3 separate regions of the Homo sapiens genome follow, and all the other regions are reported to be linked to region 2. Evidence: microRNA targets listed by miRTarBase, many of them from high-throughput screens and not tested one by one. Region 2 holds a microRNA gene; each other region holds the end of a gene's coding sequence.

Region 1 (4,197 bases), not on the chromosome of region 2:
CGAAGTCTTCTGACTTCCAAACTCTACATTCTTCTTTTCACACCATGATACTGTTCCACTTTCCTAACTATCTTTTTCTCTCACTTCCTTTTATAGTTTTGTGTAGTTTTTTTTGTTTGTTTGTTTTTGTTTTTTGTATTTTCTTTGAGACAGAGTCTTGCTCTGTTGCCAAGCTGGAGTGTAGTGGCGTGATCTCGGCTCACTGCAAACTCCGCCTCCCAGGTTCAAGCGATTCTCCTGCCTCAGCCTCCCGAGTAGCTGGGACTACAGGCGCGTGCCCCCATGCCTGGCTAATTTTTTTTTGTATTTTTTTGGAGAACTAGAAAGGCAAACAGTTTGACTTAGTGTTGGATTTAGTAGAGCTCTTGATCTCCTGACCTCATGATCTGCCCACCTCAGCCTCCCAAAGTGCTAGGTTTACAGACATGAGCCACCTCGTCTGGCCTTAGTTAACTTTTATAATCTTAGTTTTGGTACATTATAGAGTATGTGGTTTAGCTAACTATTTTTTATCTACTGTAGAAAACATACCATATTCCTCCGACTATAGCAATAGAAATAAACCCCTGTAACTGAGATTTAATTATTCTTGTTTTTTTTTAATGATAGAAACTTCGGGAAAAACAAAAAGTTATACGAGAAAGTCATGGTCCAAATATGAAACAAGCAAAAATGTGGCGTGATTTGGAACAATTAATGGAATGTAAGAAACAGTGCTTTCTGAAACAACAAAGCCAAACTTCCATTGGTCAGGTAATTCAGGAGGGTGGGGAGGACCGGCTAATACTGTGAATTCTTGTGTCATCGTTTGGGGTTTTACTTGATACCACTAGCTATAAGCCTAATCTCATAATGTATTTCTTTTTTGAAACTGATTTGTATAGCATTTTGTTTTCAGAAGAGCCATTCTTTATTAAGTTTTCATAGAAAATAATGTTAAGGTAGATTTAGTTTGAATGTTTTTTCATATGAAAAAGAGGCTTTTATTCTTTTCCATAGTTTAGACATCACTGGCGTCTTCTGAGTTTTATGAGACAGGAAACTAAGTTTACTATCTGTAAATGTAAACATATGTCCATTAAGAAACATGTAGTTTTTTTTTAGAATGTAATAACCCAGTGGCTTACTGTTTTTCTTAATCTCTTTTAAAAAAACTTTAGAAGAATCTTTTAGGAACTAATATCTCTTGTTCTGAAGAAACATTTATCTGACGTTCAGCAGTTCCTACAGTTTTACTTCAGTTTATTTTTCTTCTGTAAAATGCAAGAAAATTTAATATTTTGACTAACATGTCTTTTCTGTTTGTATCATTTAAAGGCAAATAAACTTGGTACGTATTTCATATCTATTTAAAAAATGTATAGTTGTCTTGTGTCAAAATTTATTCTTTTTAAAGTATTAACATCTAATATTAAATTGAAGGATTATTACTTCTTTTCTTTTCTTTTTTGAGACGGAGTCTCGCTCTTTTGCCTAGGCTGGAGTGCAGTGTCATGATCTCGGCTCACTACAAGCTCCACCTCCCAGGTTCATGCCATACTCCTGCCTCAGCTTCCTGAGTAGCTGGGACTACAGGCACCTGCCACCATGCCCGGCTAACTTTTTGTATTTTTAGTAGAGACAGGGTTTCACCGTGTTAGCCAGGATGGTCTCGATCTCCTGACCTCGTGATCTGCCTGCCTCGGCCTCCCAAAGTGCTGGGATTACAGGCATGAGCCTACACGCCTGGCCACATTATTACTTATTTTCACCAAAAATCTATTACAGACTTTTTTTTCTTTTTTTTGAGGTGGAGTCTCACTCTGTTGCCCAGGCTGGAGTGCAGTGGTGTGATCTCAGCTCACTGCAACCTCTGCTTCCGGGATTCAAGCAATCCTCCTGCCTCCACCTCCCAAGTAGCTGAGATGACAGGCGCCCGCCATCACACCTGGCCAATTTTTGTATTTTTAGTAGCAACAGGGTTTCACCATGTTGACCAGACTGGTCTTGAACTCCCAACCAACATCAGGTGATCTGCCTGCCTCAGCCTCCCAAAGTGTTGGGATTACAAGCATGAGCCACTCATGCCTGGCCTATTACAGATTTAATAATATAATAACCAACCTGGGCACAGTGGCTCATGCCTGTAATTCCACTACTTTGGGAGGCTGAGGCAAGCAGATCATTTGAGGTCAGGGGTTCGAGACCAGCCTGGGCAACATGACAAAACCCTGTCTCTACAAAAAATACAAAAATTAGCCGGGTGTGGTGGCACACCTGTGGTCCCAGCTACTTGGAAGGCTGAGGCTAGAGAATCACTTGAACCTGGGATGTGGAGTTTGCAGTGAGCGAAGATCACGCCACTGTACTCCAGCCTGGGCAATAGAGCAAGACTCTGTCTCAAAAAATAATAATAATAATGTAACAATAATCTGATAGTTGTGGGAACCGTTATTTTATTTCATTTTATTTTTTCTTTGAGACAGTCTCTTGCTCTGTTGCCCAGGCTGGAGTATAGTGGTGCAATCTCAGCTCACTGCAACCTCTGCCTCCCAGATTCAAGCAATTCTCCTGCCTCAGCTTTGCGAATAGCTGGAATTACAGGCATGCACCACCACACCTGGCTAGTTTTTATATTTTTAGTAGAGATGGGGTTTCACCATGTTGGCCAGGCTGGTCTCGAACTCCTAAGCTCAAGTGATCCACCCGCCTCAGCCTCCTAAAGTGCTGGGATTACAGTTACAGGCATGAGCCACCACGCCCAGCCTGATATTTTAAATATAAAAAAATTTTCATAGAATATAGATATCACATATTAAATGTAGCACAAGACTCAAAGTGAAATTCAAGAGTTCAAAGTGCTTCCAATCTCTGCTTCATTTGGACAAGGTACTTGAAGATTTCTTTGGTTTCCCTTAGAAAGATACCAAATTCATGTGCCATGCTTTACTTCATTTCAATTTCAGTACTTTTTCAAAATATCTTGCCTTTAGATTTGAAAACTCAAATTTCGAATTATTAGCATGTCCATCTTAGGCTAGTTCTTTTCAGCTGTCTTTAAAAAAATTTTTTGTTGTTTTTTTTTTTAGAGATGGGATCTTTCTCTGTTGCCCAGGCTGGGAGGCAGTGATATAATCATAGCTCAATGCAGCCTCAAACTTCTGGGGTCAAGTTAGCTGGGACTATAGGCACATGCCACCATGCCTGGCTAATTTTTTTTTTTTTTTTTGGTAGAGATGCCATGTAAGCTGTTTTTGTGTCAGTATAAACAAATACCTGAGGCTGGCTAATTTATAAAGAAAAGAGGTTTAATTGGCTCATGGTTATGCAGGCTGTACAGGAAGCATGGTGATGGCATCTCCTCTTGGCCAGGGCCTCAGGTGAAAGCTTCATGGTGAAAGGGGAACCAGCACATCATATGGAAAGAGCAGGAGCGAGAGGTCAGGGGCAGTTGTCACTCACTGTTAAAGAACCAGATCTTGTGTGAACTCAGAGCTAGAAATCACTAATCACCGCGGGGATGACATTAAGTTATTCACGAGGATCCACCTCCATGATCTAGACACCTCCCACCAGGCCTCACCTCCAACACTGGAGATTACATTTCAACATGAGATTTGGAGGGAACAAACATCCAAACCATATTAGATGGGGTCTCCTTTTGTTGCCCAGGCTAGTCTTGAACTTGTGGCTTCAAGTGATCCTCCCACCTTGGCCTCCCAAAGTGCTAGGATTAGGCATAAGCTACCATACTTGGCCCAAAACTTTTTTTTTTTTGTTTGAGATGGAGTTTCGCTCTTGTTGCCCAAGCTGGAGTGCAATGGCGCAATCTCAGCTCACTGCAACCTCCATCTCCCAGGTTCAAGCCATTCTCCTGCCTCAGCCTCCCAAGTAGCTGGGATTACAGGCATGTACCACCACCAAAAATATTTTTTAAAGAAGAAAATTGTTTCTACCCTGTAAAAAATATGGATCTCTTTGTTCCCATGTGTGTCCTACTCTTAATTTTTGTTTGAAAGGTTTTTTATTGGTAATCAAAGAGCCTCACTAGCTAGAGATAATTGGTAATTCTAGGAGCTGTAGCAAGAAGAGATGGGGTCCATCAGAATAAGGAAGAACTGGACTTACCGGGAAAGTATGGAGAGAAATATCTTTTAAATTTTTATAAGGAAAACAGAAGTATTTCAGTGTTCATAAGTGATTTGAATTGGTCCTCTG
Region 2 (4,489 bases):
CCTGCCCCTCCCTTTCACCAGACCTACAGTTGCACAGGAGCTTCAGCCCTATCTTGGCTTAACAGACTTCCATAAAGAGAAAACGCCATGAAACTACCACAGGTCCCACAGATGATCCTCTTGGAAAATGCTTTATTCCTGGTAATTAATCCCTGTTGAGGGAGGGTAACTTGGCAGTGATCCCTTCCAGAGTGCCAAGGAGTTGTTTATTCCCTTCAGTAAATAAGGAACAGTTCAACATTTAATGTTTTTTTAAAAGCAATTCAAATGTGCAAGAGCCTTCTGGTGCTGACAACAAAATCCTTGAGGTTTTTTAAATTTTTATTAAAAAAAAATTTTTTTTTGAGACAGACTCTCGCTCTGTCACCTAGGCTGAAGTGCAGTGGTGCAATCTCAGCTCACTGCAACCTCTGCCTCCCGGGTTCAAGCGATTCTCCTGCCTCAGCCTCCCAAGTAGCTGGGATTACAGGCTTGTGCCACCATGCCTGGCCAATTTTTATACTTTTAGTAGAGATGGGGTTTTGCCATGTTGGCCTGGCTGGTCTCAAACTCCTGACCTCAGGTCATCCTCCCACCTCAGCCTCCCAAAGTGCTAGGATTTGAGCCCCCGCGCCCGGCCGAGATTTTTTAAGACATAGTAGGACGTAGAAGTCTGACTTCATTACCTTGTACCAGTCGTAGCTGGATGTTGGAAAACCGTGTAAAAGCACAACTATCTCTGGACTTCCAACCACACCCACAGAGTCTAGGAAGAAGGAAAGTACAATCAATTATGCCAAATCCCTATAAAAATAACCTCGAAGATGTTAAAATCTAAGTAATCTGATACAAAGAACAAGCAACTGTGACCAAATTGACATTAAAATGACACAATTATTTGTAAAATGTAAGCTTAACTGCGTTAGGTGAGAACAGGCCTTTTCTCCTTTCAATCTGTATATTAAAACATTGTAAAAATCATGCTATGTGAAAATACTTGAAGGCACCTTGTTTACTTTCACCTAGGTGTTTTTAAACAGCATCTCCCCATTTCTCCTTTTGTTCTGTAATATGCAAATTTTTTCAGTGAAAAGTAAATTTTCAGTTAAAAGCATATGATCACAACACATAAACTACAAATTCTTTGTACTTTATCATGAATGGCCTCACAGAAATTCTCTAAGATACAGCAACTATTCCCAAGGAACACCTTTAGCTTATGCTGTTTGCTCAGCACTTTTTATTCAGCAGGAGACCCAATCTAACATCAAAAACATAATAAAACTATTACAAAATCCTGTCAACTATAAAAAGGGCTTAATCAACATAAACATGAACTTTTTTAATGCATATGACAATATGGAAGCATTCAGCATCATCTAAATTAGGTAAACATTTAGACAATATTAACCTTGCTAATAGTATGGGATTAGAACAGGTATATTCATATACTGCCAGTGACATGAAAATTTGGTAATAAGGTTTTCAAAAATAATTTAGAAGCAGTTAAAAATTGTATATACTTTAGCCTAAGAGTTTTGTTCTTGAGAATCTGTGCAAATAAAATCATTCCATTTATACAAGTAGTATAGTTTGAAAATGTAAGGAAAAAATAAACTGTATGGACATGAAGCTTTTACTTCAACATTAGTTTTCTAAAACAGTAAAACTGGAAGTAACCCAAGCCAACATAATAAAAATTGTATACTTACTTAATTGAATATAGCAAATGAGAGGAGGTCAGGAGCAATAATGAAAAACGGTTTATGACAAACATTTTTCGTTATTGCTCTTGACCCCCGCTCAAAACAAATCATTTCCAATCTGTTTCTCAGTTTCTTCACCTATAAAATGAGGTTAATGGCACCTATCTCCAAATGCTGTTGTAAAGATTAAACAATGAAGGCTGAAAACATAACTCAGTGCCTGGCATATGGTAATTACTTGATAAGTAGTGGTCATAATAATCATCATCACTAGCAAATTAATTTATATAATGGTATCAAGACTTAAATCACAGTTACACTACAAATAATCTACAGAAAAAATGAAATCAGGGATGGTAAGGAGAGAGAACCAATGGTGGTTATATCTATTAATATTTTATATATTACCTGACAGGTTGCTCAAAAAAAAAAAAAAACTAATATTGGAATACATATCAAGCTACAAAGAAAACTTATACTAAAAGGTAAGGTCTGCAGGTTGGAATCTCAGTCCCTACCCCCATTCTCCCAGCAGTTTTCTGCGCTTCTCTGCAAGCACACTACACAGAAAGAGAGAGAGATACTCTCCTCCATCATTAAGGAGCAACAAGAGACCAATAGCCACAAAATAAATACCTCAGCTGGGACTTATGTGACCGATACACGCAGGACTTCCAATAGTCCACTTCTTACCTTGGTAGAAGATACGCAGTCCCTTGTAAGTGAAAAACTTGCCTGAAGACTTCCATGAGTGAAGGGCAGGGGAGAGCTGAGGGGGTGGGATGTGCAGGTACGCAGCAAGCAGGGGCACGGCCAGCAGCCCCACCTGGACCCACCACTCCCTCATCCTGTAGGAAAAGCAGAGACCCACTGTAAGCAGTCAGGTAACATTGTCCACTCATCTACAAACCAAAACCTGGTAAGATGGGGTGGGAGATTGCTGTTACCATGCAATGATTACATTGCCCTTCACATAGGCACAAAGCTGACCGAGACTATAATCAAACCTCTGTCTGCCATAGCACTCACCATATTTGTTCATCATTCTAATCTTAAGGAAAAAAAATACATTATTTCAACATATAATCTTCTGCCTCTGCTCCCCGACTTTAACCCCTTAGCCCCTACCCTTGTGGTCTTCCCAATACCTGCTGAAGAGGACTTTATATAAATAAAAGGGACATGACTTAAATGCTGGACACTCTTTCGTTGACTTTTATCAAGGCTTCCCAGGAAAAAAATAACTTCTTTCTTATTTACTCCAAAAGCTCTACCATCTACCCACTACCCCCAACCAGTAAAATGTTCAAAAAATATATATGTGCTATATCTCATGTTTTAAAGAGTGTGTGTGTGTAGTAACTTATCACATGTCCTCAAGCAGAGAGCTACTCCTGATTTTCAGCCCTCCTGCCTAAATGAAGCCCCATTTAGTACTCCTTTCTGGATTTGGGCTGAGAAACTGCTCAGGGTAAACAGTCTGTGAAAGTAAGATAGCTGCACTGTGTATTCCAACATAAGCAGCTTTGTCATGACCCTGAATATCTAATCTCTTGAGAGGTCAAGGCGGTAGATTACATTTCTGCTTTTCTTAGCAGACTCTTTAAGTTTCCATTTAATTTCCTAAGATGCTCCCCCACCCCCAGATAAGGCATAACTCATACCCAGCGTGTGAGAATTGATTTTGTCTTTGGAAAAAGAGCACTGGTTGGTACACCCAACCCTCCCATGCCCAGGACTTCAAAGGCACAAGTCAGTTTATCCACATTGACAAGGAGTGCCAAACAGGAATTATAAACCGTTCTGTTTCAAGTCTATGACTTCTGATGGTCAACAGATCAAGAATTGTCAGTAGAATGGAAGTTCTCTCAAAACAGCCAGAATGGAAATAATACCCTCCAAAACTAAAATTAGAGTTGTCATAGAGCTGAAATAAATTAATTGCTAAAGCCCTGGGGGAAATGGCTTTCCGTCTGTACACACATTCTTCCCTATTGCCTGTAATCTACCTACCCGTTCGCTAACTTCCTCAACTTACAAGATACTTTTCCCCCCCATATCCCTGATACTTTTTGCTAAAATCTAAAAACAAGCCTGTGGTTTTACAGTGGTAAAATAACCATGTTTCTTAAACAATGTCAGCTCCCCAGGCTATTTTTTAGGCATTATTAGGGCAGTCATTTCTTTTTTTCTCCAAAGTACCTGTCCATAAGACGGATAGAACCATTTGGTCCTACTTCTCAAGGTAATACTAGAAATGGTTCAAAAAAGTGCCAGAACATGATGGTTATATCACAGTTTTCACCCAACAATAGCAGGCTGTATCCCAGTATCTCCTTGAAAGGTCAGATGACAAAAACCATTAGGTTTTGACGATCATTTGCCCAGCCCTATCTGTCCTGTACTTCAATGTATACATTTTCATGTGCAGATTTCATTACTCCTTTCCCCCAGTGCTTCTCATCGCATTCATCCCCGGGGTTCCAGCAGCTGAATCTCTGCAGTGACTCAGCAGAGAGCCCCGGGAGGGGCGGCCAGAGCGGCAAATGGGGAGGCTTCCCCGCCGCTGCTCAGGGAAAGTGGGGGGTTAAAAAACGAGGCTATCGACCAACATACTCCACTCCTGGACACCCCCCTCCACACCCTCCTCCTCTTACTCCAAGAAAGCAAAGAGGCAACCTCTCAGGGGGCCATTTTTTGTCTTATTACCTCAGTAAAAATGCCCCCATGAACTTTTAGGATTTTTAGAAGTGAAGCAACCTAGCCGTCAGTAGGCAAAATGGGTTAAGCAAACATTTTTTGGC
Region 3 (4,197 bases), not on the chromosome of region 2:
AGAAATCAAATGACCAATCAAGTTTCAAATGAAACCCAATCAGAATCAACAGAACAGACACCTTCTCGGCCATCGCAATTAGATGTCTCTCTTTCTGCAACAGGCCCACAGTTTTTGTCAGTTGAGCCAGCGCATTCAGTTGCATCTCAAAAAACCCCCACCTCCGCTTCCAGCATGCTTGAACTTGAGACAGGGCTTCATGTAACTCCTTCTCCTTCAGAGAGCAGTAGCAGCAGAGCAGTCTCTCCCTTTGCCAAGATTCGAAGTTCCATGGTCCAGGTTGCTAGTATTACCCAAGCTGGATTAACCCATGGGATAAACTTTGCAGTGTCAAAAGTTCAGAAGAGTCCTCCAGAACCTGAAATCATTAATCAAGTCCAGCAAAATGAACTTAAAAAGATGTTTATACAATGCCAGACACGGATAATTCAGATTTAGCTTTTAGCCATAAGAATCCTTCCATGGCTTTTATTTAAAAATATGAAATTTTCACCTCTTGGGGTATTTTAATTGTACTGTCTGAACCCAGGGATCACAAATTCTGTTCATTGGAAAGGGTTTTAAACGGAGTCGGAACCTGAGTAGATTTCCAAATTTTACAGCCAGGACTACAGAAGTGCATCATTCTAGAATGTGTAGACCTGAGTAGCTTATACACTACAGAGCACTTTGCTTATTTGAAAGTAATTCAGCAACAGGTCACTTTGGGATATAACCTGAACCTTTTTTTGGAGTGGGGTGGGTAGACTACAGTAGACACAAGGGCTGGACATGCAGATGCTTAGGGGATTAGCGTTTTTCATAATTTGTTCTGTTTGTCAGTTCATTCCTGTGTGTTCTTACCTCTACAAAGTAAATTACACATTTAGTTTTTAGTGACTTTAACATGTTACTGAAGCATTTGAATATAAAGCTATTTTAGTTTTGATGGCTTAACTGTTCCCTGAGGAGTTGAGGGTTATTGACACTAGAGAAATGAATTCTCATTTGATCCTAATTTTCCCCGTATTCTACTTGAACACATTAAAAATACTCTGCTGCCTATACAATGTAAACCTAGGAGCATTAAGACTTGTCACACAGTAAACCTGATACATCAGAGGTGAATACCAGCACCTATTAGGTTTCATTTTGCTGTTTTCAGGAATGTAAGAACACCCATATTGGCTACTGGAAATTCTAGAAGTCAGTCAGGTTTTAATTTATTCCAGGAGGGGCATCCTCGACATCTTATGTAGATGATCCACAACTTCAAAATTTAGTCTGGGCCTAGTGCAGTGGCTCACACCTATAATCCCAACACTTTGGGAGGCCAGGAGTTTTGAGACCAGCCTGGGAAACATCTGTCTCTACAAAAAAATACAAAAATTAGCTGGGCATAGTGGTGCATGCCTGTGTTTCTAGCTACGCAGGAGGATTGCTTGAGCCCATGAGATTGAGGCTGCAGTGAGCTGTGATCGTGCCACTGACCTCCAGCCTGGGGGACAGAGCAAGACCGTGTCTCAAAAACAATTTAGTCTGAAACACAATTGTGCTGAATCTGTCTGACTATAACTCTGACCACACAGAACCAGGGCTGCCCCTGTAATCCCCACAGTAAGAAAGTTGTATGGCATATTCCAACAAGTATTGGTTCGTCTGGTGTCTTTAGAGCTTTACTCTGTTGAAGTGACTGATTCTCAACTGAACATTATGTCGTTACTTTGATAAGCATTCCACTTTTGTTATTTATTAGTGCTATCTTTTTTTTTTACGTGTTAAATCTTGTGATTATTAAAATAAAGTACCATTGTAATTTAAAGTGACAAATGGGTATGAGAATTCCTTGCATAACAGATTAAAGAATTTGTAAACGGCAGATTTGCTATAACTGAACACTTGGTCTAGCTGTTGCCAGTATGTTACTCCTTTGAAATATACTCATGATGTAAAAAGGGAAATGGATCAGAAACTATACTTTAAATCCAAACATTCAAAACTGAATGCTTGCTTCTACCAACTTTTCTTCCGGGTCCTGAAAATATTAAGGGTTCCCAACATGGGAGAAAATACAACCCAACATTAGGTGATAAAATACACGTTTAAACTCTACAGAAATTAGTTCGAAAGAGATCTTTGAAAAATCATTTTAAGAAGGCAAAGTTCCAAACAGGGTTACACAGGAGTCTACTCAGTTTCCTGGCCATACAGGATTAACGCTGTGCCTTACGTTAGAGCAACAAACTTGACTGTCCGTGTATATATAGGTGAGGGACAAAGGGTTTCTGCAGCCAAGCACTGCACTCCATTCCGCTGCCTGGGCGGGCCTTGAGCAGGAAGGTCCCTCTTGCACCACCTCCTCCACTTCAGTTCAGCTCTCTCATGTCTTCCACCAAGAGGACATGGTCTTTTTCCACACAGATCACATGGGATGGTGAATCTTCTTACTCATGAAAAACAGCCCAAGGTACTGCTAATTTGGGACGTTTTATTTATTGGAAAGGTTCTTTCAAGGGAACTTTTCTGCAAGACCAAGCAATGTATGTATTTTTCTTTGGTAAATTACAATTTACATTGGCACAAAAAACACATGGTGACTAATGTACTTTGCTCTAGGACAATTAAAGAAAATGTATTTTATCCTCACAAATCCAGTGAAGCCTTCATTTTATTTCTAAAAGTTTAAGGAAGGTCTAGTCTACCAGTTATAAAAATGAAAACCAGTTCAACTCTAATATAAACATTATTTACATTTGTTTATAAAAATAGATTTGAGTTTAGGAAAAGTTGAACAACTAGTTATTTTTACTTCAGTTATTAGGTACAATGAATTCCTTGATTTTTCAAGGCTGACCCTGTTTCCTTGGTTAACAATTTCAATTTAGGCCTTATAGGAAAAAACGTAAGGGATCCTTTATCTGCCTCCAACTAGGTAAGTTATTTGATACCACTGACAGCTTAAAAAGTAATGTCCTAACCTTTCTGAAGATTCTGGTTGCCATAACCATGCTACTACAGTCTGTTGTTAGTTTGCTCTATTAAAACTAATTGGTCTGGAGAAAACCTACCTGCAGTTGTACGAGGCTGTTACTGGAGTAGCAGATGTTAGCTGATCTAACATACTTGGAACCAACTGATGATCCCATAAAAAATGCCAAAAATCCAATAGAATCAAAGCAACTCAATGACATTTAAGAAAATAAAAACTTTCTAAAGGGGGTATTGCTTTTTAAGTTTCCTATTTTGTTTTCATATTTGGGCACAGCTTTGTAGCACAGCATTCCCTTATGCATGGTTCTCAAATGCACTGGGATAGGAGAAAATAAAGACAATGTAGTGTCTTGGTTTCTTTTGCCCCCAAAAGCCACATTCATTCCGTTTAAAGGACTCCTCTTATTCAGAGATAGATTGTCCTTTCCTTTTATGAAAAAAATGGTGATAATACAGTGATTTATTCGGATTACTTGGCAAGGTAAATTGGCAACCTTATAGTACCCCAGATTTTTGGAAATATTACTACCGGTCCATAAAATACAAAAGTCTGGGAACCACTGCCATGTACAAGTTTAGTTTTGCAGGCTGTTAACAAATGTTAAGTGGGAAAAAGTTTCTGTGGCCAAACATCTGGGAAATGACAGTACAGAATTTCATGTAGTCATGTGAATCAATGGCAAGTACGCCTCCGTTCCCCAAAGATGGACTACTGAATGCACCCCAACCCACTGTGAACTGGAAAAACAGAGAACTAGAAAACATAAGAAATCCGAAGCACGATTCCTCTGACTTTGAAACTGCAACAACCTTCTTCATTTCAGCATTTCAACAGTCTGGCCTATGACTCAGCTGAAGCTAAGGAAATGGTACAATCAGCAACATTATCAATATTAAACTTTTAATATCAAATACTTTTTTTACATCATTACTAATTTATATAATTATTATAAAACAAACTTCAAAAGCTCCATGAAATCAGTAAGGTAAAAGTCCTTACTGAATATCATATAAACATCAGGTGTTACCAGGCTTGATTTCAGGAAATGTCACTGGTTTGTGATAGAAATTACCTATAAAACAATGTGGTATAAATGAATATCTGAATTTTACAATTATGTGGCTACAGTTTGCCCATTACTCTTCATAGGTATTACATCTTTAAAGTTCATTTCCATTCACACATTTTTGCTGCTGAAGCCTCGTTCTTCTTAAAGACTCTAGCTG

The links. The annotated mature microRNA hsa-miR-335-5p reads UCAAGAGCAAUAACGAAAAAUGU and lies in region 2 at 1,753-1,775, opposite strand. An mRNA with a match to its seed (bases 2 to 7 or 8) in the 3' UTR can be bound and repressed. Matches are read on the target gene's strand: a 7mer-m8 pairs with bases 2 to 8, a 7mer-A1 pairs with bases 2 to 7 and ends in A, and an 8mer does both.
Region 1: the mRNA of IFT81 is a reported target of hsa-miR-335-5p. The part of its 3' UTR that is shown has no 7-base or 8-base seed match.
Region 3: miRTarBase lists INPP5F as a target of hsa-miR-335-5p. The part of its 3' UTR that is shown has no 7-base or 8-base seed match.

Annotation. Positions count from the first base shown.
Region 1 is chr12:110,217,435-110,221,631 of GRCh38, forward strand. IFT81 (intraflagellar transport 81) reads left to right here. Exons shown (of 19, transcript NM_014055.4): 19 at 610-1,359. The coding sequence ends at 792. Among named protein-coding and RNA genes, the nearest start is that of ATP2A2, 62 kb to the right of the region's middle.
Region 2 is chr7:130,493,412-130,497,900 of GRCh38, reverse strand. MIR335 (microRNA 335) reads right to left here and starts at 1,790; the gene lies at 1,697-1,790. MEST (mesoderm specific transcript) reads right to left here. Exons shown (of 12, transcript NM_002402.4): 2 at 2,379-2,533; 3 at 666-745.
Region 3 is chr10:119,827,343-119,831,539 of GRCh38, forward strand. It overlaps INPP5F (inositol polyphosphate-5-phosphatase F), which reads left to right. Exons shown (of 20, transcript NM_014937.4): 20 at 1-1,805. The coding sequence ends at 438. MCMBP (minichromosome maintenance complex binding protein) reads right to left here. Exons shown (of 16, transcript NM_001256378.2): 16 at 2,098-4,197. The coding sequence ends at 4,132. Among named protein-coding and RNA genes, the nearest start is that of MCMBP, 43 kb to the right of the region's middle.